Regions from separate parts of the Homo sapiens genome. Here regions 1, 3, 4 and 5 are each linked to region 2. The links come from fine-mapping of genetic effects on gene expression. A gene starts in region 2. Each other region holds a variant in brackets. All regions are shown on one strand. Distances are between the middles of the regions.

Region 1 (5,104 bases), 95 kb after region 2:
TTGGCACATACATGGATTTAGAGACTGGTGCCTACTTATTGCCAGAAGCTTGAAGGTGGCCGGTTAGCCAAGCAGCCTGAGATGGCCAGGCAGTGGGAATAGCCTACACCCACCTCTTATAGTGACAAGGATGACGGGAAACTCCAGAGAAAGTGGCCTGTGGACCTCTTGAAGATACAGATATGCCTCATGTTATTGCACCTTGCTTTATTGCGCTTTGCATATATTGTATTTCTTACAAATTGAAGGTTTGCAGCAACCCTGCATGGAGCAAGTCTATCAGCACCATTTTTCCAAAAGCAAGTGCTCACTTCGTGTCTCTGGGTCATATTTTGGTAATTTGTGCAATATTTCAAACTTTTTCACTATTATTATATCTGTTAGGGTGATCTGTGATTAGTGATCTGTGATCTGATGTTACTACTGTTATTGTTTTGAAGCACCGTGAGCCATGCCCGTGTAAGACGGTGAACTCAGTCGGTTAATGCTGTGTGTGTTCTGAATGCTTCACTGACCATTTCACATCTATCTCCCTCTCCTTGGGCCTCCCAATTCCCGAGGCACAATAACATTGCAGTTAGACCAATTAATAACACTACAATGGCCTCTAAATGTTCAAGTGAAAGGAAGAGTTGCATATCTCTCACTTTAAGTCAAGCTCTAGAAATGGTTTAGCTTAGTGGGAAAGGCATGTCAAAAGCCAAGATGGGCCAAAAACTGAGTCTCTTGCACCAGTTAGCCAAGTTTTGAATGCAAAGGAAAAGTTCTTGAAGGAAATTAAAAGTGCTACTCCAGTAAACACATGAATGATAAGAAAGCAAACAGCCTTATTGCTGATATGGAGGAAATTTTAGTGGTTTGGATACAAGATCAAACCAGCCACGACATTCCCTTGAGCCAATGTCTAATCCAGAGCAAGGCTCGAACTCTCTTCAATTCTATGAAGGCTGAGAGTTGAGGAAGCTACAGAAGAAAAGTCTGAACCCAGCAGAGATTGGCTCATGAGGTTTAAGGAAAGAAGGTATCTTCATAACATCAAAGTGCAAAGAGAAGCTGCAGCAAGTTATCCAGAAGACCTAGCCAAGATCAATGATGAAGGTGGCTACATAAACAACAAATTCTCAAAGTAAATAAGACAGCCTTCTGTTGGAAGAAGATGCCATCGAGGACTTTCATAACTAGAGACATTCATAGTCAATGCCCGGCTTCAAAGCCTCAAAGGACAGGCTGACTCTCTTGTTAGGAGCTGATGCAGCTGGTGATTTTAAGTTGAAGTCAATGCTCATTTACCATTCTGAAAATTCTGGAGCCTTTAAGAGTAACGCTATATCTACTCTACCTGTGCTCTATAAATGAAACAACAAAGCCTGGATGACAGTATATCTGTTTACAGAATGGTTTACTGAATATTTTAAGGCCACTGTTGAGACCTACTGCTCAGAAAAAAACTGTTCTTTTCAAAATATCACTGCCCATTGACAATGCACCTAATCACCCAAGAGCTCTGATGGAGACATGCAAGGAGTTAATGTTGTTTTCATGCCCACTAATACAACATCCATTCTGCAGCCCATGGATCAAGGAGCAATTTCAACTTTCAAGTCTTATTATTTAGGAAATACATTTTGTAAGGCTCTAGCTGTCGTAGATAGTGATTCCTCTGATGGATCTGGGCTAAGTAAATTGAAAACCTTCCTGAAAGGATTCACCATTCTAGATGCCATTAAGAACATTTGTAATTAATGGGAAGAGGTCAAAATAGCAACATTAACAGAAGTTTGGAAGAAATTGATTCCAACCCTCCTGAATGATTTTGAAGGGTTCAAGACTTCAATGGAGGAACTCACTGCAGATGTGGTGGGAATAGCAAGAGAAGTAGAATTAAAAGGGGAGCCTGAAGAGGTGACTGAGTTGCTGCAATCTCATGACTAAACATGACTGGCAGCCAGGCGCAGTGGCTCAAGCCTGTAATCCCAGAACTTTGGGAGGCCGAGGTGAGCGGATCATCAGAGGTCAGTAGTTCAAGACCAGCCTAGCCAACATGGTGAAACCCCTTCTCTACAAAAATACAAAAATTAGCAGGGCATGGTGACATGTGCCGGTAGTCCCAGCTACTCAGGAGGCTGAGACAGGAGATCACTTGAAC[C/A]CAGGAGGCAGAGGTTGCAGTGAACTGAAATTGTGCCACTGCCCTCCAGCCTGGGCAACAAAGCGAGACTCCATCTCAAAACAAAACAAACAAAAAAAAACCTTGAATGGATGAGGTGTTGCTTCTTATGAATGAGCAAAGAAAACAGTTTCTTCTTTCTTTTTTATTTTCTTTTTTGAGACAGAGTCTTGCTCTGTTGCCCAGGCTGGAGTGCAGTGATGTAATCATGAATCACTGCAGCCTCAAGCTCCTCAAGTAATCCTCCCACCTCAGCCTCCAAAATAGCTAGAACAAGTGAATGCTACCATGCCTGGTTCTTTTTCTTTCTTTTTTTTTTTTATATATAGGCAGGGTCTCACTATGTCGCCCAGGCTGGTCTCAAAGTCCTGGCCTCAAGTGATCCTTCCACCTAGGCCTGGGATGATTCCAGGCTGGGATTACAGACATGAGCCACCACATCCTGCCTGTTTCCTTAGATGGAATATACTCCTGGTAAAGACGCTGTAAACATTGTTGAAACGACAACAAAAAAATTAGAATATGACATAAACTTGGTTGATAAAGCAGCAGCAGGGTTTGAGAGAATTGACTCCAATTTTGAAAGAAGTTCTACCTTGGGTAAAATGCTACCAAACAGCATTGCATGCTACAAGGCAATATATTATGAAAGGACAGTCCATTGATGTGGCAAAATTCATTGTTTTCTTGTTTTAAGAAATTGCCACAGCCACCCCAGCCTTCAGGAACCACCACCCTGATCAGTCAGCAGCCACCAACACCAAGGCAGAACCCTCCACCAGGAAAAAGATGATGACTCACTGAACGCTCAGATGATTGTTAGCATTTTTTTGCAATAAAGATTTTTTTAATTTAAAGTATGTACATTGTATTTTTGACATAATGCTATTGAACACTTAATAGGCCACAGTATAATATAAACATAACTTTTATATGCACTGGAAAACCAGTGGATTTTTATAACTCACTTTATTGCAATATTTGCTTTATTGCGGGGTCTGAAAGTGAACCCACAATATTTCCAAGGTGTGTCTGCACCTGTTGTGGGTTGAACTGTGTCCTCCAAAAAGATATATTGAAGTTCTAACCCTTGGTACCTATCACTGTGACCTTATTTGGAAACAGGTCTTTGCAGATGTGATCAGTTAAGACGAGGTCACGCTAGAGTAGCGTGGACCCTAATCCAATGGCCAGTGTCCTTATAAGAAGAAGAGAAGACACAGAGAGACACATACACACTCAAAGAAGAAGCCCATATGCAGACAGAGGCAGAGATTGCAGTGATGCTTTCACAAACCATGAAACACCTGGGGCTACCAGAAGCCAGATGGATAAGGAAGCATGCTCCCCTAGAGGTTGCAGAAGGAGCGTGGCCCTACCAACACCTTGATTTTGACCTTCTGGCCTCCAGAACCATGAAAGAATACATTTCTGTTGTTTTGAGTCACCCAGTTTATGCACCTTGTGGTGGTGGCCACAGGAATCCAGTAACACCCCCTTCTAAGAGGGCAGCCAGGCAGACGAGGAGAACTATGCAGTTAGAGGCTGTGGGGTGGACAGCAGGGGACAGGTCATCAGGGCACTGTGCAGGTCCAGGTCCATGATGCTCGGAAGAACACACACCTGCATCCAGCAGAAGAGCCAGTGTTGCATATCAGCCACCCAGAGCCCAAGGGTCCATGTAAGCAAAAATGGCCACGCCAGTGGGGCCACTTTTCCTCCAAGCCCCCTCCCCTCCATCCTGGCCCCAGGAGCATCAGCAGGTGTGGGAGAGGAAGAGAGGAGGGGACGGCCAGACCTGCCCCTCCCCAGGGTAGGAGCCTTGGACCTGGGGTCCAGCAGAGCTGGGAGGAGAGGCAAAACTGAACTGGATGTCAGATGTTGGTTGAACTTGACAGACCTGTTTCACACACAAACACAATCAAAAAACTATGGTGGGATCTGCGCCAGCCTGATTAAGGTGGGGAAGGAAGATCCAGCAAGACACACGGGTTGGGAATCAGGGACTGCTGGGAGACTTAGCACGGAGACACTGGACTTCAGGGAACTGGAAGCTGGGAGGATGGGTGAACTAAGAGATAAACAGGGTGGGTACTCCAGAGACAGCAATGCCCAGAGAGGCAGGGGCAGAGGGAGGGCGTGGAGTTCCCAGACCCTGCAGCCGGGTCACCAGTGGAAGCTGGGAGCCCTGGGGGCCTGTCTGTCGCAGCTGGAGAGAAAGGGAGAGAAGGTCCAGCCCCCTCTGTCTCATGCTCAGGCCTCCCATGGGTGGAACCTGGAAGTGTGGGAGATACCACTTGCAGGGGTCTGTCCCCACAAGACATGGCAGAGGAGGGAGAGGACAAGTGTAGAGTCTCAGGACAACAGATCCAGGACCAGCACCGCATGTAGAAAGGCAGTGAAAGGAAAGGGGGAGACCTCCACTTCGGCCCTGCCCCCTCCCTATCTAGCTCCGACTGGTCGGCAAACTGGTTCCCAGCCATGCAGCCCCAGGAAATGGCATTGATGGTGCTTGGACCCAAAGTCATGTCTGTGGGGTTCATCTCCTGGAGGAGGATCCCTGGCCACACCCCTTGGGGTGGACAGATCCCTCTCCCTGGAAATTCCCCTTTGGGGTAGGCAGATCCCTCCATCTAGCAATTTGCAGTTCACAGACCCCAGAATGCAGGGCCAGAGACAGGGACACTCCCAGAGTTACCCGGGACATCCCTGTATGTGTTTGGTTGTGGATCAGAGGAGGGAGAGGCTTGTTCAACACACAGCCACCTGCCCCTCACCAGAGACAGAGACCCTGGGGCTGGGGAGGAATCCAGTCCATTCGCTCCAGACACCCACCCCAGGCTCAGGAACAGTGCAGAAGAGAGACAGGGGCTGGCTCCGAGTGAGAGAGACACCCGCCATTCCCAAACCCTCTTTGCGGAGGACCACGAAGAACCCACC
Region 2 (5,104 bases):
ATATTGTCAGTTATCCTCCACGGAGGTGGTAGCAATTCACATGCAGGAGGCAAACTCTTTTATCTTTTTCCTTTTATATGGGGAAAAATGCATTGATTTTAATCAATTTTATGTAATAAAAATGTCCCATTTTAAATGTATATCTCAACGAGTTTTGACAAATTTACACATTTGTGCAATTACAGCTACAATCAAGATAAAGGACATTCCTACACAGCAATACATTCCCTAAAGCCCCTCCCCAGAAAATACCCCCAACCACTGGCCATGAGCAACCACTGACCTGCTTTCTGTAATGATTTCCATATATTTTTAATCCATGGTTTTCTTTTATTTCATTTTTTTATTATGTATTTATTTATTTATTCATTTTTTGAGATGGAGTCTCGCTCTGTCGCCCAGGCTAGGGTGGCGCGATCTCGGCTCACTGCCAGCTCCACCTCCCGGGTTCACGCCATTCTCCTGCCTCAGCCTCCCGAGTAACTACAGGCGCCCGCCATCAAGCCCAGCTAATTTTTTGTATTTTTAGTAGAGACGGGGTTTCACCGTGTTAGCCAGGATGGTCTCGATCTCCTGACCTCATGATCCGCCCGCCTCGGCCTCCCAAAGTGCTGAGATTACAGGCGTGAGCCACCGCGCCCGGCCAGTTCTCTTTTTTTAGAGAGAGAGATGGGGTGTTGCTTTGTTGCCCAGGGTGGTCTCAAACTCCTGGACTCAAGCAATCCTCCCACCTCAGCCTCCCAAAGTGCTGCAATTACAGGTGTGAGCCACCACGCCTGGCCCATAGTTCTCTTATTATGAGTGAGGTTGGTTGTCTTTTCATATGTTCAGGGCCATTTTTATTTCTTCTTTTGTGAGCTCTCCGTTCACATCCTATGTCCTTGTTTCGTTTTGTTTTGTTTTGCTTTTTTCTATGGAAGTTCTTTATCTATTCACAAAATTACCGTTTGTGATATGAGTTTCAAATGTTTCTTTACAATTTGAAGTTTATTTTTTGACCTTGCTTGTATATTCATACAATCCATGTTCTATTTCATTCTATTTATGGTGTCTAGCTCTTACACTTTTAAAGGACTTCCCCGTTTCGAGATTATAAAATAATCTTCCACATTTTCTTCTAAGTGCCTTTATGCTTTCAGTTTTCACTTTTAAATGCCGACCATCTGGAATTTGGGAGCTGGGTGACCAACCTTCGCCGTTGGGAGACACGGATCCAAGTTCTGTTGCTGTCATTCAGATGTTTAACTTCTGAAAGATACGTTCCATTTGCGGAAAATACATCCTCTTTTTCTCAGTGATTTAAAATTCTCTCCTGAGCAGAAATGAAGTTCCCCTAGGAATGTAGGCCTATTCTAGTCCTTATATTCTGCCCATTGGCATGTCTCATGGGCTAGGCATCATTACCACAATTTTAACATGGAGCTTAATGCTAATTGGGCTGTTTCATGATCCCCTCGTGTGGTTTTTCTTTCAGAATTGTCATGGCCATTTTTGCTAGACTACTTCTTCACATGCACTTTAGAATCAGCTTGCCTGGCTCTAAAATAAATCCTGCATAGGCAATTCTAATGGACATCCTGGCTAAGTATCACAGTTTAAATCAAATATTATTAACAATTCTAATAACACCTCCCATTCGTACTCTACCTACTTTTCAAAGCAGTTTCACTCTTTCACCCACCTGGCCTCCTTGGGGTTAGAAAGGACAGGAGTTAGACAATTCCGCACACGTACAAAGGAGCTTCAGACTGCTTCCAGCCCAGCCCCAGATTCCAGCCAGACCTTCCCTTGACGGCCCAGGCCTCGCCCTGAGGGCACCTCGGGTTCCAGCTACCTCCGGGCCCCCAGGACCACCGCTTCCCCCGCCCCACGCCAACCCCTAGATCTGCCTCGCCCCCGCCTGAAGAGTCGGATCTGAACCAGGCCGGCACCACGGAGATTCCCCTGCGGGCCGCCCGACGCCTGGTAGGTGGTGGGCTCTTCCCGGCTGCCCCGAACACTTTCCTCTGTCCAGCTCTTCCCGTGCCCCGGGGCTGGGGAAAGCGTCCGGCAGCCCCGCCGCTCCCTGGCCCCGTCCCAGGAGCCACCCCACCGTAGGGCTCCAGCCAGGGTCCAGGCGTGCAGGCGGCAGAAGGTGGACGGGACGCGCCAGCCCCAGGCCTCTCCTCCCGCTCTCCAGCCGTTTTTCTGGGGAGAAACACCTGCACCCAGCTGTCCCTCCCTCCTACGTGAGTCCTCCTGGAAACCAGGTTGGAGGAAGAAAGACGTCCTGTGGACAGGACGGGGTGGGGGCATGGCCCTGGGGACTCCTCGTGACAGAGGGTCCTGCGGCAAGAGGGTCTCCCGGGCCGCGGAGGCCCTGCCTCACCTGCAGTCCTCCGGGAGCCCGCGGCCGAGCAGAGCGGACACTAGCTGACCCCGAGCAGGGGAGCGACGGGAGGGCGGAGACGGCAGATGCACGGGTGGGGGCTGCGGCCCCGCCCAGGCTGCGCGGTTTCCCGAAACCAGCTGCGGCCCGGGGGCCCGGCAAAGGGGGTTCCGCCCGGAGGAGCGGACCGGGCGGGAGAAGACCGAGCCCCCGCGCGCCCCCTGCGCTCCCACTCGCGCACACTTGCACGCCGGCCCTGGCCGGGCGGGGCTGGAGGCGAGAACGACCCCACGGGCTTTCCCAGGGCCGTCCGCCCGCGGACCCTCCCAGCTCCCCAGAGCCCAGTGACCCTCGCGCAGCAGGAGAACCCCAGACGGACCCCAGGCCCTGCAGCCTGTCATGAACCCGAGGGGCTGAAGTTCAGCCCCACCCCCGCCTCCCCTCCCCGCCTCCCCCTCCAACTCTCAACCCACTTCTCCAGCCAGCGCCCCAGCCCTCCCGCCGCCCGCTCGCAGGTCCCGAGGAGCGCAGGTGAGGCGGCACCCCACTCCCGGCGGCCCCCGGGCCTCCTTCCGCACGCACCCCGAGCTGCCTCCGCACAGTTGGAGGAGCGTAGGAGGGACCCCCACCCAGGGATGACACTCCAGGAAGGGGACTGCAGAGGAAGCCAGGTGCGGCCCCGGCTTTTGACCTACCTCCGCACCGCAGCGCGGTCCTTCACGGGGCAGGGGCGGCGTGAACCCGTCGGGCGTGAGCAGCAGTCGGTGGAGCGGGAGGTCGGCGGTGGCGGGGATGGGGGTATCCGGAGCGCAGCCGGGGCGCAGCTGCTGGCACAGGAGCTCCACAGGCAGCCAAGGACTCGGTCCTGTCCCAGAGCCTGCGGACTGTGGAGGGGAGGCCGCAGGAAGAGCCCGGGAGGAGGGGGTGAGGGGTCGAGGTGTGGGGCGCTGCTTGACCCAGACGCCAGGGCCCTGGGAGGAGGATGAGGGGGACAGAGCAGATCTTGGGCGAAAGGGGAGGTTCCCGCAGGCTCTGTAGTCGCCGCAGTTCCAGCATGGTCAGCACCCCCTCTGCTACACACATTCCCCTCGTGAGGGGCCAGGGGTGCGGCCCTGTGACCAGGACAGCCATTCATTGGGTGACTTTGAGCCACCACTGGCCCCTGACCTCCCCAACTCCAATGAAATCTGCGAAAATCTTCTGACAGCCGTTCCTCTCTGGTGCTCCCTTCCTCATAGACTGTGTCCCTGACAATGGGAACAGCCGACAGTGATGAGATGGCCCCGGAGGCCCCACAGCACACCCACATCGATGTGCACATCCACCAGGAGTCTGCCCTGGCCAAGCTCCTGCTCACCTGCTGCTCTGCGCTGCGGCCCCGGGCCACCCAGGCCAGGGGCAGCAGCCGGCTGCTGGTGGCCTCGTGGGTGAGTGTGACGGCCTGCCTCGTCGGGCGGCGGGAGGAACTCCCCACCTCCAGCCGCAGCAGCACTCTCTGCCAGCCTCCCTCTGAACAGGACACCGAGCCAGTTATGTCTTCTTACTTAGCGATGTGATTCTCTGGCCTTCTCAGTAAGAGCCTGGGGAGGGGAGGCTCTGGGCTGAAGGGGTGTGGAGGAGCCACTGACCATGCAGAGTCCCAATCAGTGGAGCCCTGAGTCCATCCTTTCCTCTGGGCCAAACTCAGGATGGGCCGGCTCTCCTCTCCTTCCTTTCCCTTCTCTTTTCTCCTCCTCCTGCCTCTTCTTCTTTCTCCTTCTCCTCCTCTTTCTTCTCCTTTTCTCTTCTCTTCTCTTCTCTTCTCTTCTTTCTTTCTCTCTCTCTCTACCTCTCCCTCTCTTTTTGGGGTTTTAGCGGTTAATCCCTGCAGTGGCAGGTCCACCTAGGAGCCGGGATCTTGGGTCCTTTGTCTTTCAGGTGATGCAGATCGTGCTGGGGATCTTGAGTGCAGTCCTAGGAGGATTTTTCTACATCCGCGACTACACCCTCCTCGTCACCTCGGGAGCTGCCATCTGGACAGGGGCTGTGGTGAGTAGAGCAGGACAGTGCTTGACTGCCTGTGAGAGGGGTGGGGCATTGCTCTCCTGATTGCCTTCCTCCAACATGGCGCCACAGAATGCTGGCAGTCGGAGAGATCTGATTATCTAGGACCATTCCCTGCCTGTTCAGATGAGCAAACAGCTGAGGGCGGTGGTGGCATGTCCTATTCACACTGTCTGCTCTCCCATACCCTTCCCAGTGCTGTTCCCACCAGGCTGGCTGCCTCTCCCTGCCTTCAACAGTTAATGTCAACTAAGGATCTAAGGACCTGCTCATCTCCAGATACTTGCATTGAGATGGGGAAGGCAGAGCGTTCCAGATAGTATGTGGTCCCCCAGGAAGCATCACCCCCTGGTTATTCTCATTGTCCTCCACAGGCCCTGTACACAATGGAAACCCAGGAATTGTTGTCAACAGATGGGTGTGTGCAGTTTGCACAGGAGCTGGGTAGGCTGGTCATGGTACCTACACTCTCAGAATAGCACTAAAACACTCATATTTACTGACAGAAGCCGAGAGTAATTACCTTCACCCAGCCTGTGGCAAAATACCCAGCTTAATTACAGAATTAGCCAAACAGGATTCAGGTCCACCTGTCCACTGGGACATACTAGATTTCCTGTTCTTCAAGCCCAGCTGAGTGGATTATTGGGCACTGTTAGGACAGGCTTCTAGACCTAACAGTGCCCACTCTGT
Region 3 (5,087 bases), 23 kb after region 2:
AAAAATATTAATTCATTAATTGAACAAATGTGTATTAATATCTCTCATGTGGCAGGCACTGTCAGCACTGGAAAGGGAACTGTGAACAGGTTGGACAGTCCCCTGCCTCCCCCAACCCACAGTGACGTTGAGGAGTGAGGGCCAAAAAGCCATGACATTTTCCAGTCTTCGTCTGGCGCGCCCCAGGCTACCTGCTCTGCTCCAGCCAACTAGTCAGAATCACACCATTACATCCCCCAGGCCCCAGAGTTACAGGGCAGGCAGGGTTTTTCCTACTGTTTCACTGTCTTCAGCCAGTTTCTCCTTGTCCCACCTCATCGGCTAGGACACACAATTCAGCAAACAGGATTTCCAGTTCTGAGCTGGAGCCAACCCCCGTCACAGCCCACCCTAGCTGAACATCCACCGTGATGCTGGCCTACTCCTGCCCCAACCCTGGCCCAGTGAGATGCAGGGCTGCCGATTCATTAGGAAGACCCTCTGCACTTGAAAGAACAGTGTGGAAACAATCTACAGGAAAGGATCTTCTTGAAAACATGAGTGCTACCCTACAAAGAGCCCAGGAGTGGCCTCTCCTCCCTCCCCCACCCAGTCAAGGCTAGGGGCACAGAGAAACCTGCCTCCTCCCCAGCAGAGGCAATGTGACCCAGGGCCCAAAGTAGAATGCCCTGAGAATGCAGCCCCAGTCCCCCAGCACAATCTGGTCACCTTTAGCCTCAAAGACAAGGATTTCTCAAACAAGACATAAAAAGCACCAGCCATAAAGAAAAGGACTGATAAGTCCAAATCCACTAATGTTAAAACTTTCTGATTCTCAAAAAACGAAGGAAGGAAATGAAAAGATAAGCCACATAATCTGATAAAATATTAGTCAACACATAAATAACAAAGGACCAATTCCAGAAGGTGTTAAATTGAATCATATGAAACTGCCATTTTTTGTAAGTCAAAAATGGTCAAGTGTCAGCAATTTCACATGAAGAATTCTTAAAAATCATTAAGGCGGACAACCCAACAGAAAAAATTGCCAAAGATCTGACACTGTACATAAGAGGAAGCCCAAATGGCCAATAAATAGTGGAAATGTGTTCAACCTCATCAATAAACCAGGTAGTCAAATTAAAACCTCAATAAGATAACATGAACTAAATCCACAATATTCCACAAAAATTAAAGTCTGGCAATACCAAGTGTTGGTTAGGATGTGGAGCAATGGGAACTCTTGTACACTGCTGGCAGAAATGTAAACTGGTACAACCACTTTGAAAAACAGGCATGAACTAGCAAAGTTGAAATATATGACTTATGACTCCACCATTGCATTTCAAGGTATACACCCAGATACACGAATTACCAAGGTCATGTGTGCAGAAAGGATTATAAATACATTGTTCATAATATCCCCAAACTAGAAACAAGACTAATATCCATCATCATTAGAATGAATACACCCATTGTTGCAAATTCCTAGAGTAGAAAATTACACACTAATGAACAACCTACAACTACATAAAATTAAGAAAAATAAATAAGACAAAAAAATTATCTTTGGTAAGACCCTGTTTATAGAAAGTTCAAAACAGACGAAACCAACTTATATCCTTCAGGAATGCCTACAAAAAAGGAAAAAAATCTAGAGAAAAGCAAAAAAGTAATTTGCACAAGAGGTATTATATGGCTCATTTCTGGAGAGAGGGAGAAAGGGAGGGGTTGTTATTAGGGGACTGGGGTTGCTTCTGGGGCAATGAGCTATTCTTTGATTTGGTGATACATTAAGTTTGTTTTATAATTACTCACACAACTACATATGCTTAATGTTCATTTGTATGTATATTTTATAATTAAAAAGAAAACTGAAGAACCCAAAATTCTGTCAAAGCCAAATATCTTTAGACAAATCTTGAGGACAAAGGGAATGGAAATTCCATCAAAGTGGTGCAGTGACCTGAGTAGGAGTTTACAGATTATAATCTGACATGAAAATCAGAAA[T/C]TATATGAACCAAATCTAAGAGGGACAGCTAAATGGCCACCGCCTTTAAGTAACAATGTCCCTCTTTTAGACTCTAAATAGGATTCAAGGGATCCCAGTAGTGTCACATAGATGTAGACACATCCCAACAGTATTCTCTAGTTAAGAAGTTCAGCAAGATGGAAACTCATTTCCCAAAATCAAGAACCACAACTTACAAAGAGAAATTATATGCTGAGCAGCACTTTTGAGGCAGGAGATGGTAGAGAGGGAACCAGAGACTGGATACAGGAAGAATGAGTGAGAGCATGAGAGCAGAAGCAAGGTGAAGGGGCGAGTGAGCAAGAAGTGAGATATGAAGCAGAGGCTGAGCAGCCAAAACAAAAGTGAGATTTTAAAAAAGTGAGTAAGGAGCCCACATGGCCGCCTAGATCTGGACCAAACCTGTCAGGGGCAGCTCCTCAGAGATGAGCATGCACGTTAGACAGAAAACATATCCTTAAAATGTTCCCGTATGGTAATTAGCTACTTAAGGTTCATGCATATGGACTGCATATTATGCACGTACTTAAAATTATGGGATGGAGGTGACTCGCAAGAAGTCACAAGCGCACACGGGCCATAGTATTAAATAACTAAGCAGCCCACCTGTCCATCAAAAGGCAGACACTGGCTAGACATCAGGCAGTCTTGGCCACAGAAGAGAAAAAATATATAAAAGAATTCAAAGTACACCAAATTGACGTTGATCTCATTTCGCAGAGGTCAGTCCACTCTCCCCTCTCTGGGAGTGTAATACTATGCGTCATACACTTTTGCTGCTTTGCTATCTGTGTGTATCTCGTCCAATTCTTCGGTCAGGACACTAAGAGCCTGGAGCTGCACAGCACCATCTGGTAACACTTTCAAGAAGAACAAAATAAAACCAACATCAGGGATGCCGCTAGTTGCAGAAATGTTTGCGAAAGTTGATCAAATGAATTGGGTCATTTTTGTCATACCCAACTAAAACAAAGTCAAAAAGCCAGGGGGAAAAGCACTCAGGAAAGATAGCATTGCTCCAAGAATGTAATTCTCCGCATGTCTAACTGCTGAAACCAACTGTTGTAACCTGAGACCAGTTTTATCTACCCTGCTGAGATAACTTGCTGCAACTCTAGGACTAATTTTGCCCAATGCCATTGCCCACCAGTTGAAACTTGCCAGCTCCCTAGAACCTTATTAGTGCCAATGAACTTTCTCAAAGAGCAATGGGTAACATTCGGTAAAACCTCCAGCCTTCTCTTTGTTCTTACGGTGTGCATGTGTGTCCCAAGTGGCAATCCTTTCTTCCCAAATAAACGGTTAAATTTAGAGCTCAGTCTCTACTTTTTTATTTTGACTTCAACAACTTGAAGCCAGAAACAGTAGGAAACGCAGTAAAGGAAGCTGAGAGTATGAACGCCCATGCCACAGCTGAATTAATAAAGGACCACCGGGTTTGGAGGCCGGGCAACAGATGAGAGGAACTTTAGAAAGGTGGTGCTATCCCCAGTGAGCTTGAGGAACACATGTCTGTCCCTGCCATGTAGAGGAAGATAGTACCTGGCATTTTACCTGGCCACAGCACACACACATTAAATATTTGCTGAGTGAATCCCAAACCAGGAGTGTTTCCAAACTCCCCAAAGCTGCGCTACTGGGACACGAGGTGGTGCTGTGCACATTCATGGGGTGGGGAGGCGGGGCTTAGCACATAGCTCCCTCATCATTGGCTTTTAGAGAGTGAGCGGCAGGCAGGTTGTCCATTGGATACCAAGATATGGCGGCCCCCTGACTGGGAAGACATGACCTTACACACCTTGGTTCTTTAACTTGACCTTGGGAAGACAGGGCCAGCCAGCAAGGTGGCTGGGGAGAAGGCCGAGGTCCCCGGGCCGCAGACGGGAATTGAGGGTCAGGAGCCGAAGTGAAACTGGAGCCGGCGCCACGAGATGCAGCCCTGAAGGGCACCTCCACCCAGTGGCCCTCCCCCACCCCACTCCCGGGGCCCTCCTGGCCCAGCGTCACCCTGCTGCGCTAGGACCTACAAGGGCGGCCTCTGGGAGCCCTCTGCTTTACCTCCTCTCCTGGGTCAGGCTGCAGAAAGAACAAGCTCCTCCACCCTGCCTGGTAGGCATGGAAGGAGGGCAAGTGTTGGTAGCCATGGTAACTCGGGGTAGCCATATTTTCGTGCAGTCACTCTGACCCCATCTCGATGGACAAGGATTGTCCCATCTGTTTCTACAACTGTTTCCCAAACAGGCAGTGCTGTCCTAAGGAAGCACCCACCTGGCCCAAACATGCTGTGCTTTCTTTGTGGCTGCCTTGCCTCCCCAACCAATTGTAACCCCTTGGAATCAGGACTGTCTCCCGTGCGTTTTCTTCTCTCTGCAGCCTCGCCTGCAAAGGCTTCTGTGCCTTCCCTGAGATGCCCTAGCAAATGGGTCTTTTCGAACATTACCCACCTCAACGTAAGTCCTAGGCCAAGCCGGTTCTCTGCTTATTCAGAACAGAGTGCGTCTTTACTGTCATGCCATTACCTGGCAAAGGGAATTGCCGGACGGCAGGTGGCACAGAATTCCTTTGGAACTCCAAATTCTTTTTTCAGCTTAGTCTTCCCTATGATTCTGACATTTTCTACCTGAAGGCAGAACACATGGGTTGAGCTTGGGTTCTCAGAATAGAGGGGTGGAAACCAAAGCGGGTCTGCTTGAGAGGATTCATTTTTGAGCCTTCTTCCCAACAGAGTATGTAGCCAGCCCTGAAGACAAAAACAAAAGAAAGGAATGAGATCGAAGTATCTGTTCCCCTGGCTTCCTCTGTGCCAGATCACAGCCTGGCTTAGCACTGTTCTGCCAAAAGCCACCGATTTGGTCAGGTGACTGTGTCCTGCAAGTCTCCCCCGATCTATTAGCCATGCCCTCTCCTTGCCTCTTCTCACCTACCTAGGGGTGAAAATGGCCTCCAACTACGCTTAGCTTCAAGGTGCTTCACCTCCTCTGGTGATGTCCTTGCCCCTGCCTCATCTTTGTAAATAGTCCCTTTTTTAAACTCGATATTCCTCCTTCTGAGAATGCCATTTCCTAGCAGAACCCTA
Region 4 (5,104 bases), 34 kb before region 2:
TTGCCAGGCTGGTCTTGAACCCCTGACATCAGTTGATCCTCTTGCCTCAGCCTCCCAAAGTACTGGGATTATAAGCGTGAGCCACTGTGCCTGGCCCTGAATGTTTATAGCAGCTTTATTCATTACCAAAGCTAGAAATAGTTCAGCTGTCTTTCACAGATGAAAGGGTAAGTAAGTCTGTGTATATCCAGACAATGGGATACCATTCAGCAATAAAAAGTATCAACCCACAACACATGAATGAATCTGAAATTCTTTTTGCTAAATGAGAGAAAATCCAAAATGTTACATACTGAATGATTCTATTTATATGGCATTCTGGAAAAAGCAAAATTATAAAAATAGAAAACAAATCCGTGGTTGCCTGGAGTTGGGGGAGTCCTATGAAATGATGCCCCACTAAAGGGCCTCATTAGGAAACTTTTGGGCAGTCCAATTGTTCTGAGTTAAACTGTCTTGTTGTACACGTGACTCTATGCCTTTCTCAATCCCATAAACCTATACACCACAAAGGGTAAACTTTGCTGTATACAAATTTTTAAAAAATCAACTGAGATCTTGGGGAAATCCAAGATGAAAAGCGGACTGCTAAAATGAATCTAACCGTATTACAAATAAAAAAACATAACCATACGGAAGTTAGGAGGGAAGAAACGAGCTGACCTAAGTGCCTTTGTAAAGCAATGTTTTGACTGGAGAGTGTCAGGCCAAAGACAAGAAGAACAGTACAGAAGCAACAAACTCTCATTGGTAAATTCGTTTTTCACAAACAACCCTAAACCTATGGTATACTTGGGCTCAAAAATAATTAAATATAGTGTAAGCTATGGGATCCACTTTTCTCATTGTCAGAAAGAAGTTACAAATAAGCAGAGATAATGCTAGAATAAATCCTGGTGCTGGACTGGAGTTAGAAATATCAGTATGAACTCATGGTTGATTTATTTTTAGTAGATACAAAAATATAATATGTGTGCATATATGGGTCAGTTATACATACATGAATTACCTAGCTCTGCCCACTGAGAGAGAGGAGACTATGAGCAGTGACACCAGTAGCAATGAGCACAGCCAGCACTCAGATCTTGATTTCGAAATGCCGTTCCCTGATGAAAGGAACCAGGACTCCTTCAAGAAGTGTAGAAGTGGCTGATTCCAGGGCTAGGATAGGGAAAATAAATATAAGATGAGCCTGGAACACCTTATAGTGCCAGAAAGTAAAGAAGTGAAAACAGGATAAAGCATGTGAAAAATGCAGAAGAGGAGGCAAAAATTTGCCCCTCCTCTTTTATGGTTTTGTTGTTGTTGTTGTTGGGGGTTTTTTGTTTTTGTTTTGTTTTCTTGTTTGTTTGTTTGTTGCCTGGGCCTGGAGAATTAAATAGACATAAGACAAATCAACAGGAGAAAAGTATATAAATTATTTAATGCAAGTTTTTTAATGGCAGGAGAGCATTCATAAGGAAATGAAGACACAAAGCAGCAGCTAGAGTCAAACATTTATGCCCTGAATTGTGAAAATGTAACAAGGCAAAGGGGCTTATGCTAGGGTAAATAACTGGGTAAATAAGTAATTAGGAACATAAGGGATGCTTGTATAGATTCCTATCAGCCTCAACTTCCTATCCTTTGTGATGAGAATGTTACTTTCTTCTTGGTTTAGGGAGAACACCTTTCACATGGGAATTTCATCTCTGGCTTTTAAAGAACAGTGAAGGTCAGAGTGATCTTCTTGCATCTCCTGTTTTTATGTGCCTTTAGTTTAAAATAATTCTGATGCCAAAGTGGCATATTTGGGGATGATGTGTTCTGAGTGACATGTTTTGGGGTAGTGTATTCTGAGCCTCTTCATTCCCCATTTGAAACTTTACTTTTAGAAAGTTTCATATGTTAAAAGCCAAGTTAGTAGCTGTGAGCAGATTTGGGTTGGAAGTTGTGAAACAAGAGATCAACGAAGGGAAAGAAAAACAAGGATCGGAACACACAGAAGAACAAATATTCCCCGTATCTTATTGACACAGCCTTTTAGTCCTGAGAACAGTTCAGTTGAACAGTTGCGTCTCATTTTAGGAGGCCGTGTTGCAGTTGGGCTTCCATCCAAGTTGAGACTTCATAATGTAAACAATAAGAGGCATTTCTTTTTTTTTTTTTTTTTTTTTTTTTTTTTTTTTTTTTTTTTTGAGATGGAGTCTCGCTCTGTCGCCCAGGCTGGAGTGCAGTGGCGCGATCTCGGCTCACTGCAAGCTCCGCCTCCCGGGTTCACGCCATTCTCCTGCCTCAGCCTCCCGCGTAGCTGGGACTACAGGCGCCCGCCACCACGCCAGGCTAATTTTTTTGTGTTTTTTAGTAGAGACGGGGTTTCACTGTGTTAGCGAGGATGGTCTCGATCTCCTGACCTCGTGATCCGCCCGCCTCGGCCTCCCAAAGTGCTGGGATTACAGGCGTGAGCCACCGCGCCCAGCCCAATAAGAGGCATTTCTATGGAAACAAAAGAAAAATAAAGGTTAATGTTTAGGGCAAGTTATAAGCCCAGCTTTTGAGTCCAGAGGGCAATCAGTTGGTAAAGGGTACTATAGGTTGGGCTCAAAGCATCTTTAGATAGAGAGTGAAGATAAGCAGTGGTAATTCTGATCAATTTCCTGATTTGCAGTTTGAATGTCTCTGGT[G/A]AGGTCATTGGGTGTTCCAGTGGACTTTCTGAGTGGCCTACACAGCAACAGGCACAAAGGTTGCTTATATATTAGTTGTGGTAGTGAGTTCTCTGAAGTTTATATCAAGTCATCCAGTTTCAGCTTGCAAAATTTCAGGAAAAGGGCAGCTTCAGTTTTCAGTGATGTCAAGTCAAGAGAGTAGGAGAAAAACATGAAGCATTAGCCTGAAGATTTGTTGCCGGATATGGGAGGAAATTAGAGTTTAATATCTAATCCATTCTACATATAGATAACAAAACTTCAAAGACAATGAACAGTACTAGAATCCAATAACGGGTACACTATAGTTTTTGTTAATATAATTTTTCTCTCCACAGTCACTCCCACTTTTACCAAACATAATCACAGTAAGACTAATTTTTTTACAAAATAAGTCTAGTCACATTAAACTTGTCTTGATTATTTATATAATGCAGCAAGAATAGTGATTGATCGTATAGGCTCTTTTTAAGTCTGCTTTGCTGGAACTGCTAATAAGGAATCTAAAAGCCTCTCAAGTCTAGGAAGCCAAGCCAAGAGCTTGTCATTAGATTTTGCCTGTAACACCTCTAGATTTGGGTGAGTTCCTCTGTTCTCGAGGTCTCCAAAATATTTTTAAGGCTCCTGGGCCTGCATGAAAGTTACCTTCTTTACTCAACTATAAGGCTAGGAACTCTGTGAGCAAGGTACCAGGCTGGGGGTTTTTTAAGGGGCCTTATTCGCCCCACAAAGTCATCCTTAGTTTCTTAAAACTGTGTAGTCATATCTGATTCTATGACATTCTAAAAATTACATTCCAAAGCTTTGGTAATGTAACCAATGTTTTCCATTGTGTCCTGTTACAAACAGATAGATTCTTATTGGACCTATACAAACAACTATGGTCATGAATGTAAGAATACTCACTCATCATTTTCAAATTCTGGAGGGATTAGGTAGGGAGAAAATCAAATGCTTTATTTCTGTTTACAAATGCATAATCTACCAGATTGTGGTCAACTACAGATAGCGTAGGATAAAAGAGAAAACATTTCCTCAGATCTGGAAAACAAAATATTAAAGAACGAGCAATGTTTTGAAAAAAGGTAATTTTTTAAAGCATCATTTTTTTTCATCAGTTCATTTAGTCCCATCCAATTAATTTTTGTTTTGCCCAACATCGGGTTAACAGTTTTACAAACCAGTCAGTTTCTTCATTAGAGTTCTGGAAATTCTTACCCAGGCCAATGGTGGGATCTTAAAGTTATCAAAAACCTGTACTTGTTGGAGTCTTTTCCATGATCTCTTTGAAGACAAATTTTGACCATAGTGGCTTGCAAAAGCTTTTAGGAAAATATCACAGTAAAATAACATGTAAATTATAAAAGATTTTTAAGTAGTCACATTTAAATATCTAATGAGAGTTTCTTACAATCTAATTGATGAGGAAATTTGGTTATTTCTGTGACATACAACATTGTAAAATAAGATGTAGAATTCTGATTGATAACATTATATCAGACATATGATGAATAGCTAAGGGTATTGACAAATTTTAAAGAATTTTATTTCTGAAACACTCTTATTAGTAACATGTGCCCATATAAATATAAAGAAAGCTAAACGTCACTTTTACTTGACAGTGCTTCCCACATAATTTAACATATCAAATAAGCCAATTAGTTTAATGTCCCTCTTTTACAAGGTGAGAGAGAAATTCTTTCACATTTTCCAGGAGCCCATCTCAAAAGTCCCAAAGTTAGTTCAAGATCAATAAAAAAGGCTTAATTTAGAAATTAATCTTGGGAAGTTTGTCAGAAACGTCAAAAGGGGCCGAGTATGGTGGCTCACACCTTTAATCTCCACATTTTGGGAGGCCAAGGCAGGAGGATGGCTTGAGCCTGGGAGTTAATACCAGCCTGGGCAACACAGACCTATCTCTACAAAATATTTTTTAAAACATTAGCGGAAGATAGTAGCATGCACCAGTAGTCCCAGCTACTCAGGAGGCTGAAGTAGGAGGATCCATTGAGCCCGGGGGTCAAGGCCGCAGTGAGCTGTGATCATGCCACTGCATCGTAACCTGGGTAACAGAGTGAGACCCTATTTCAAAAAATAAAAACAATAATAAAAACTAGGAGTGGAAAGGATAGGGGTTTAGATGAAACAAGATTGCCCATGTATAACTGTTGATGCCTAATGATAGATACGTTGAGTTCAGTACGCTATTTTTTCTACTTCTATGTATTTAGAATTTTCCACTTAAAAAGTTTTTTTAAATAGATTGACAGAGGTTTATCAAAGTTCATAATATTTCAATTTTTCCAAATATTTTAGATATAATGGGTTAAATGGGATACTTTTCAACCTTTCAGTGAAAGAGTAAGACATACAATTTATAGTCATTTGGTATGTCTTGATAAAGCTTTTTTGGTATACTT
Region 5 (5,104 bases), 380 kb before region 2:
CTGGTTACCTCTGGGCCTTCAGTGAGCTGCTGCTGGATGAATGGACTGGAGGTGACCATCTCCTTGGTGAGAGGCCAGGCCAGAGGACCTAAATGCTGGTGACCCTCACCAGCTGTGCTGAAGCCCCTCTCCACTGGAAACAAGGGACAAGAGTCAAATTCACAGGTCAAGGGTTGGGGTCTAGTCTGACCACATGTCTTTGGCCAAGGTCCTTACCATCTCGAGGCTCAGTTTCTGATACATGAAATGAATGGGGTGGACTGGCCGACCTCAGGTTCTTCTTGGGTGCTTCCCCGACTGCTTGTGCAGGCCTCTTTTGGGTGGTGACCCCCCAGCTCGGCTGAGTGGCCAGGCCTCACGGGGCAGGCTGGAGAGGTCCCTGGGACGCTGCTCCTGCTCCTCTAGGCTTGCCACCATTCCTGTGACTCGGGTTTTGCTCTGCGCTAGGCTACCACCATCTCTGCTCTGTACAGACGCTTGGTGAACTGAAACTGGATTTTTTTTCTTTAAGCAGGAGAACTGCAGTTGCTAGCAGTTTCTAGCAGCAGACACAGAAAGTCACCTTGGAGCAGAACTTCTTTGTTTCTGGAAGGTCATCAGGCCCTTGCAGTTAAACCAACACTAAACAAATACACACTGCTACTCTTGCACTGGCCTTGGACTTGGAAAGCATCTCAAACACAGACACTTCAGGCTGGTGTGTTTGCTCTCCCGTTTCATAACAATCACTGTCAAAAGGCTGTTGTAAGGCAGAGCATCAGGGACAGGGGCCTCTGGGGTGTGGGAAGGACCTGAAAATCTCTCAGTGGGGAGGGGCTGAGCTGGTCCTTCCCCTGGCACATGGAAACCTGCTGGGGGATGACAGGGTCCCCTGAGATGGGGTTTAAAGCATGTGGGTTCAAGAGAATCTGAGTTTATAGGAGTAGTGAAAACTGTGTCCATGTGTGGGGCAAGAGAGTCTTCTGGAGAGGGTGACATGATGGTGCACAGGCGTTCTGAGAGGTGGGGGAGGGACTGGCTGATGGACAGAGGTGACAGCTTCCGCTGCACATGAGTGCTCTCAGAAATTACGGAGCAGGAGGAAGCGTATGGGGCTTCCAGAGGGAAAATGGACTACATATAGTCCCAGGGACTGCGGAGGATTCCGTCTTTATGACATCGTGAGAACCGTATTTCAGGCTGCCAAGGCGATGCACTGGCTGCTGCTTTTCCCACCTCTGGCCTGGTGCTCACTCATGGGGTCTGCTGTGCATGGCCAATGCCTGTTCTTCTCCTTTCTGCCACTGCTCTTGGCTTTAACAGGGTTCAGGACATGCCACCCCAAAATATAGCATCTTGGCATCAAGAAAATGGCAGAAGCAGGAAGGCCACGTTGCCCTTCCCCTCGCCTGTCTCCCCCGAAGCAGGCCATAGAAGAATTCTCGGATCTTCCTCTAAAGCAGGTCATAAGACCCTCATTCCAGAAGCATCCTCCCTATCCCTGGAGAAAAGGAGTGCCCTACAGAGACCCCAGGAAGAATCTGAACAAACAGGCTTTGCTAAGTCCCCCAGTTTATTAGCATAAGTCACACCCTCTTGTCCTCCAATCACACATCTGCACGACTGTGCATGAAGACAGTTTCTCCTGTTTCTTTGGGTCTTTATTTCTTTTTTTCTTTTTTTTTTTTTTGAGACGGAGTTTCACTGTTGTTGCCCAGGTTGGAGTGCAATGGCTCGATCTCAACTCACTGCAACCTCCGCCTCCTGGGTTCAAGCGATTCTCCTGCCTCAGCCTCCTGAGTAGCTGGGATTACAGGCGTGCGCCACCACGCCTGGCTACTTTTTTGTGTTTTTAATAGAGACGGGGTTTCACCATGTTGGCCAGGCTGGTCTTGAACTCCTGACCTCAGATGATCTGCCCACCTCGGCCTCCCAAAGTGCTGGGATTACAGGCGTGAGCCACCACGCCCGGCTGGGTCTTTATTTCTGAAGTTCCTGTGTCACATGAAATTTATATTAAATACATTTGTATGCTGTTCCCTTGTTGACCTGGCTTTTGTTACGGGGGTCTCAGCCATGAACCATTTTTTTTCTTTTTTAAGACAGAGTCTCACTCTGTCACCCAGGCTGGAGTGCAGTGGTGTGATCTCGGCTCACTGCAACCTCTGCCTCCTGGGTTCAAGTGATTCTCCTGCCTCAGCCTCCTGAGTAGCTGGGATTACAGGTGCCTGCCACCACGCCTGGCTAATTTTTGTATTCTTAGTAGAGGTGGGGTTTCACCATGTTGGCCAGGCTGGTCTCGAACTCCTGACCTCAAGTGATCCACCGCCTCAGCCTCCCACAGTGCTGGGATTACAGGCGTGGGCCACCGCACCTAGCAGCCGTGAACCTCTCCATAGGAATTGCCTTCTTCTTCCTCTAGCTTCCTCAGCACTCTGCTTTCTGCAGGTGCCTCTCCTTATGCCGCATGCGGACCCCGAGGGAGGTTGTACTGTGGTTGCTCACAGTCTTGTTTAGGGAATCTCTTAGGCAGAATCCTTTCTCCTGGCTCTGCTTGTGTCATCTGTGAGC[C/T]TCGAGGTGGCTTCCCTAGGCTGGGGCACATCCCCTGGTCCCATAGCTATGGCCCGAGTGACAGAGGTCCCAAGCATCAATCCCAGGGACTTATTCACAAGGGCATGGTGAGCGTTAGTCTCAGAGGGGGTGTCTATGGACAGGCCTGGGGTGCTCTCCGGCTTGCCTGGCTACTACTCTGTGGTTTCTCCCTGCTCAGAGCCCATACTTTGCCGTGCAAACTTGTCATTTGGTAAATTATCACGCATGCCCTGTGTTCCCTTTTCTCTCATTTTCTTGAGATTAGTTTCTCATGTGTTTTTGGCTTGATCTCCAATCAATGACAAATCATATTTGTGCAACATTTTCTGGTTCACTTTCACAGGTGTAACTTGAGGGCGTGGATGTGATCTTGCAGGCCCGAGGCTCCCAGTGTCTGACATGGGGAGCTCCCGATGAAGAGATGGCTGGCCTGGTTGCATGAAGGTTGTCTTGATGGGATTCTTGTTCTGGACATAGAGCTGGACCCTTGGACAACCAAAATATCACTTCTGGAGCTCCTGGGGTTCCATACTGCCTCCCCCTGGTGGGTAGGTATTTATAGTGAGTTCTCCCTCATGCCTGGAGAGTATTATAAAATGGGACTGTTTTCTTGGCCATTGTCGGAGCATATTCAGGACATTTTACAATAAGAGAAAATCAAGAAACAGGGCCAGTTAATATGGCGGTGCTATTTTAGGCAATAAGGCAAGTCGCAACAGATACTACACATCACTGGTAGGTCACATTCTGTGAACGCAATGCAATAGAAGTCATTCACAAAAGACAGCAAATGAAAACTTGTATACATTCAGGGTTTTTTTCTTTCTTTTTCTTTTCTTTTTTTTTTTTTTTTTTTGAGATAGGGTCTCACTCTGCCGCCCAGGCTGGAGTGGTATAGTGGTGTCATCATGGCTCACTGCAGCCCCAAACTCCTGGGCTCAAGGGATCCTCCTACCTCAGCCTCCCAAGTAGCTAAGACTACAGGCATGTGCCACTATGCCCGGCTAATTAAAACTTTTTTTTTTTTCCTGTAGAGACAGGTTCTCACTTTGTTGCCCAGGCTGGCACATTCAGGGATTTCAAAAACACATTTATTAATAATTCAAATCAAAGAAAAAATTGTGATGGAAATAATGAAATATTTATGAATTAATGACTACTGTGAAATGCTACACTTCAAAACTTGTGGATACAACTGAAATCAACTAGAGGAAATGTTTAGCTTTAAATGTATTCATCAGAAAAGAAGACGTTTTGAAAATCAAAAAGTCAAGAGTTCAATTTAAGGCCAGGCATGGTGGGATGGTTCACACCTGTAATCCCAGCACTTCGGGAGGCCAAGGCAGGAGGATTGCTTGAATCCAGGAGTTTGAGACCAGCCTGAGCAACGTAGCGAGATCCCATCTCTAAAAAAATTTTTTTTAAAATTAGCTGGGCATGGTGGCATGCACCTGTAGTCCTAGCTACTTGGAAGATCCCTTGAGCCCAGGAGTTCGAGGCTATGTTTGCACCACCTCACTCTGGCCTGGATGACAGAGTGAGATGCTGTCTCTTTAAAAAAAAATTCAACTTAAGAAGTTAGAAAAATAATGGAATATATAGCCAAAGAAGGAAAAAAATAAGGATAAAAATTAATGGACTACAAAACAAAAATAATATTAAAGAGACTCAGTAAAACCAAAACCCGTTCTTTGAAAAGACAAATAAAACAGACAAACCTCTGCAAAAAGTAAAAAAAAGAGAGAAGTCAGTCATAAACAATGCTAGGAATGAAAAGAAGATGATTACCATGGATACAATAGAGATTTTGAAAAATCATGATAAAATACTGTGAACAATTTATGACTATTTTACATTTATATGAAATGGATTATTTTCTAGAAAAATATAAATTACTAAAAGAAACTTAAACCAATCTGAATATACCTATAAGCATTAGAGTACCTGAATCAGTGGTCAAAAATATAACCTTCATTCCCTTAAGTTAATTAAGATAGGAGGCCCAGATAGTTTTACTGAGGAGGTTTGTCCACCTTTAATGAAAAGATAAGCTCTCACATACAAACAGTTCCAGCGAGTAGGGGGAAAAACACATCCAAACTCATTTAATGAGGTAGATTAGTAAAAGTTGAAGACGAAACCAGAGCAGAACAGCACCATGTAGAGAAATTTTCAGCCAGTCTCACTTAGGAACAGAATTGTACGAATCCAAAATAAAATATTAGCAGATTAAACCCAGAAATGTATTTAAAAGTATAGCATGGCTGGGCATGGTGGCTCACGCCTGTAATCCCAGCACATTGGGAGGCTGAAGAGGGCGGATCCCTTGAGGTCAGGAGTTGGAGACCAGCCTGGCTATCGTGGCGAAACCCTGTCTCTACTAAAAATACAAAAATTAGCTGGGCATGGTGGTGCGTGCTTGTAGTCCTAGCTACTTGGGAGGCTGAGGCAGGAGAATCGCTTGAACCTGGGAGGCGGAGGTTGCAGTGAGCCAAGATCGCGCCACTGTACTCCAGCCTGGGCAACAGAGCGA

Alleles and levels. Alleles are on the strand shown, and positions count from the first base shown. SD is a standard deviation of normalised expression in the study named. Not every link is listed here.
In carriers of allele T in region 5, the expression in transverse colon of the gene that starts at base 2,435 in region 2 tends to be higher than with C alone (large effect, 1.2 SD a copy in CEDAR).

What was found.
Region 1: its variant is fine-mapped to the expression of TMEM176B in whole blood (INTERVAL, PIP 0.98).
Region 3: its variant is fine-mapped to the expression of TMEM176B in whole blood (TOPMed, PIP above 0.99).
Region 4: its variant is fine-mapped to the expression of TMEM176B in whole blood (INTERVAL, PIP above 0.99).
Region 5: its variant is fine-mapped to the expression of TMEM176B in transverse colon (CEDAR, PIP 0.95).

Annotation. Positions count from the first base shown.
Region 1 is chr7:150,892,468-150,897,571 of GRCh38, forward strand. No RefSeq gene overlaps it. Among named protein-coding and RNA genes, the nearest start is that of AOC1, 43 kb to the left of the region's middle. The variant C/A (reference allele first, on the strand shown) is at 2,147.
Region 2 is chr7:150,797,930-150,803,033 of GRCh38, forward strand. TMEM176B (transmembrane protein 176B) reads right to left here and starts at 2,435. Exons shown (of 7, transcript NM_001101312.2): 1 at 2,369-2,435. It overlaps TMEM176A (transmembrane protein 176A), which reads left to right and starts at 2,840. Exons shown (of 7, transcript NM_018487.3): 1 at 2,840-2,899; 2 at 3,607-3,795; 3 at 4,286-4,396. The coding sequence starts at 3,622. RefSeq lists enhancers at 1,432-2,131, 2,132-2,831, 2,832-3,531.
Region 3 is chr7:150,820,844-150,825,930 of GRCh38, forward strand. It overlaps LOC105375567 (a long non-coding RNA gene), which reads right to left. Exons shown (of 5, transcript XR_928171.3): 4 at 4,456-4,751; 5 at 1-2,871. Among named protein-coding and RNA genes, the nearest start is that of TMEM176A, 23 kb to the left of the region's middle. The variant T/C (reference allele first, on the strand shown) is at 1,991.
Region 4 is chr7:150,763,843-150,768,946 of GRCh38, forward strand. LOC105375566 (a long non-coding RNA gene) reads right to left here. Exons shown (of 4, transcript XR_928163.2): 3 at 1,010-2,134. Among named protein-coding and RNA genes, the nearest start is that of GIMAP5, 29 kb to the left of the region's middle. The variant G/A (reference allele first, on the strand shown) is at 2,664.
Region 5 is chr7:150,414,949-150,420,052 of GRCh38, forward strand. LOC124901773 (a long non-coding RNA gene) reads left to right here and starts at 389. Exons shown (of 2, transcript XR_007060587.1): 1 at 389-697; 2 at 2,915-5,104. The variant C/T (reference allele first, on the strand shown) is at 2,551.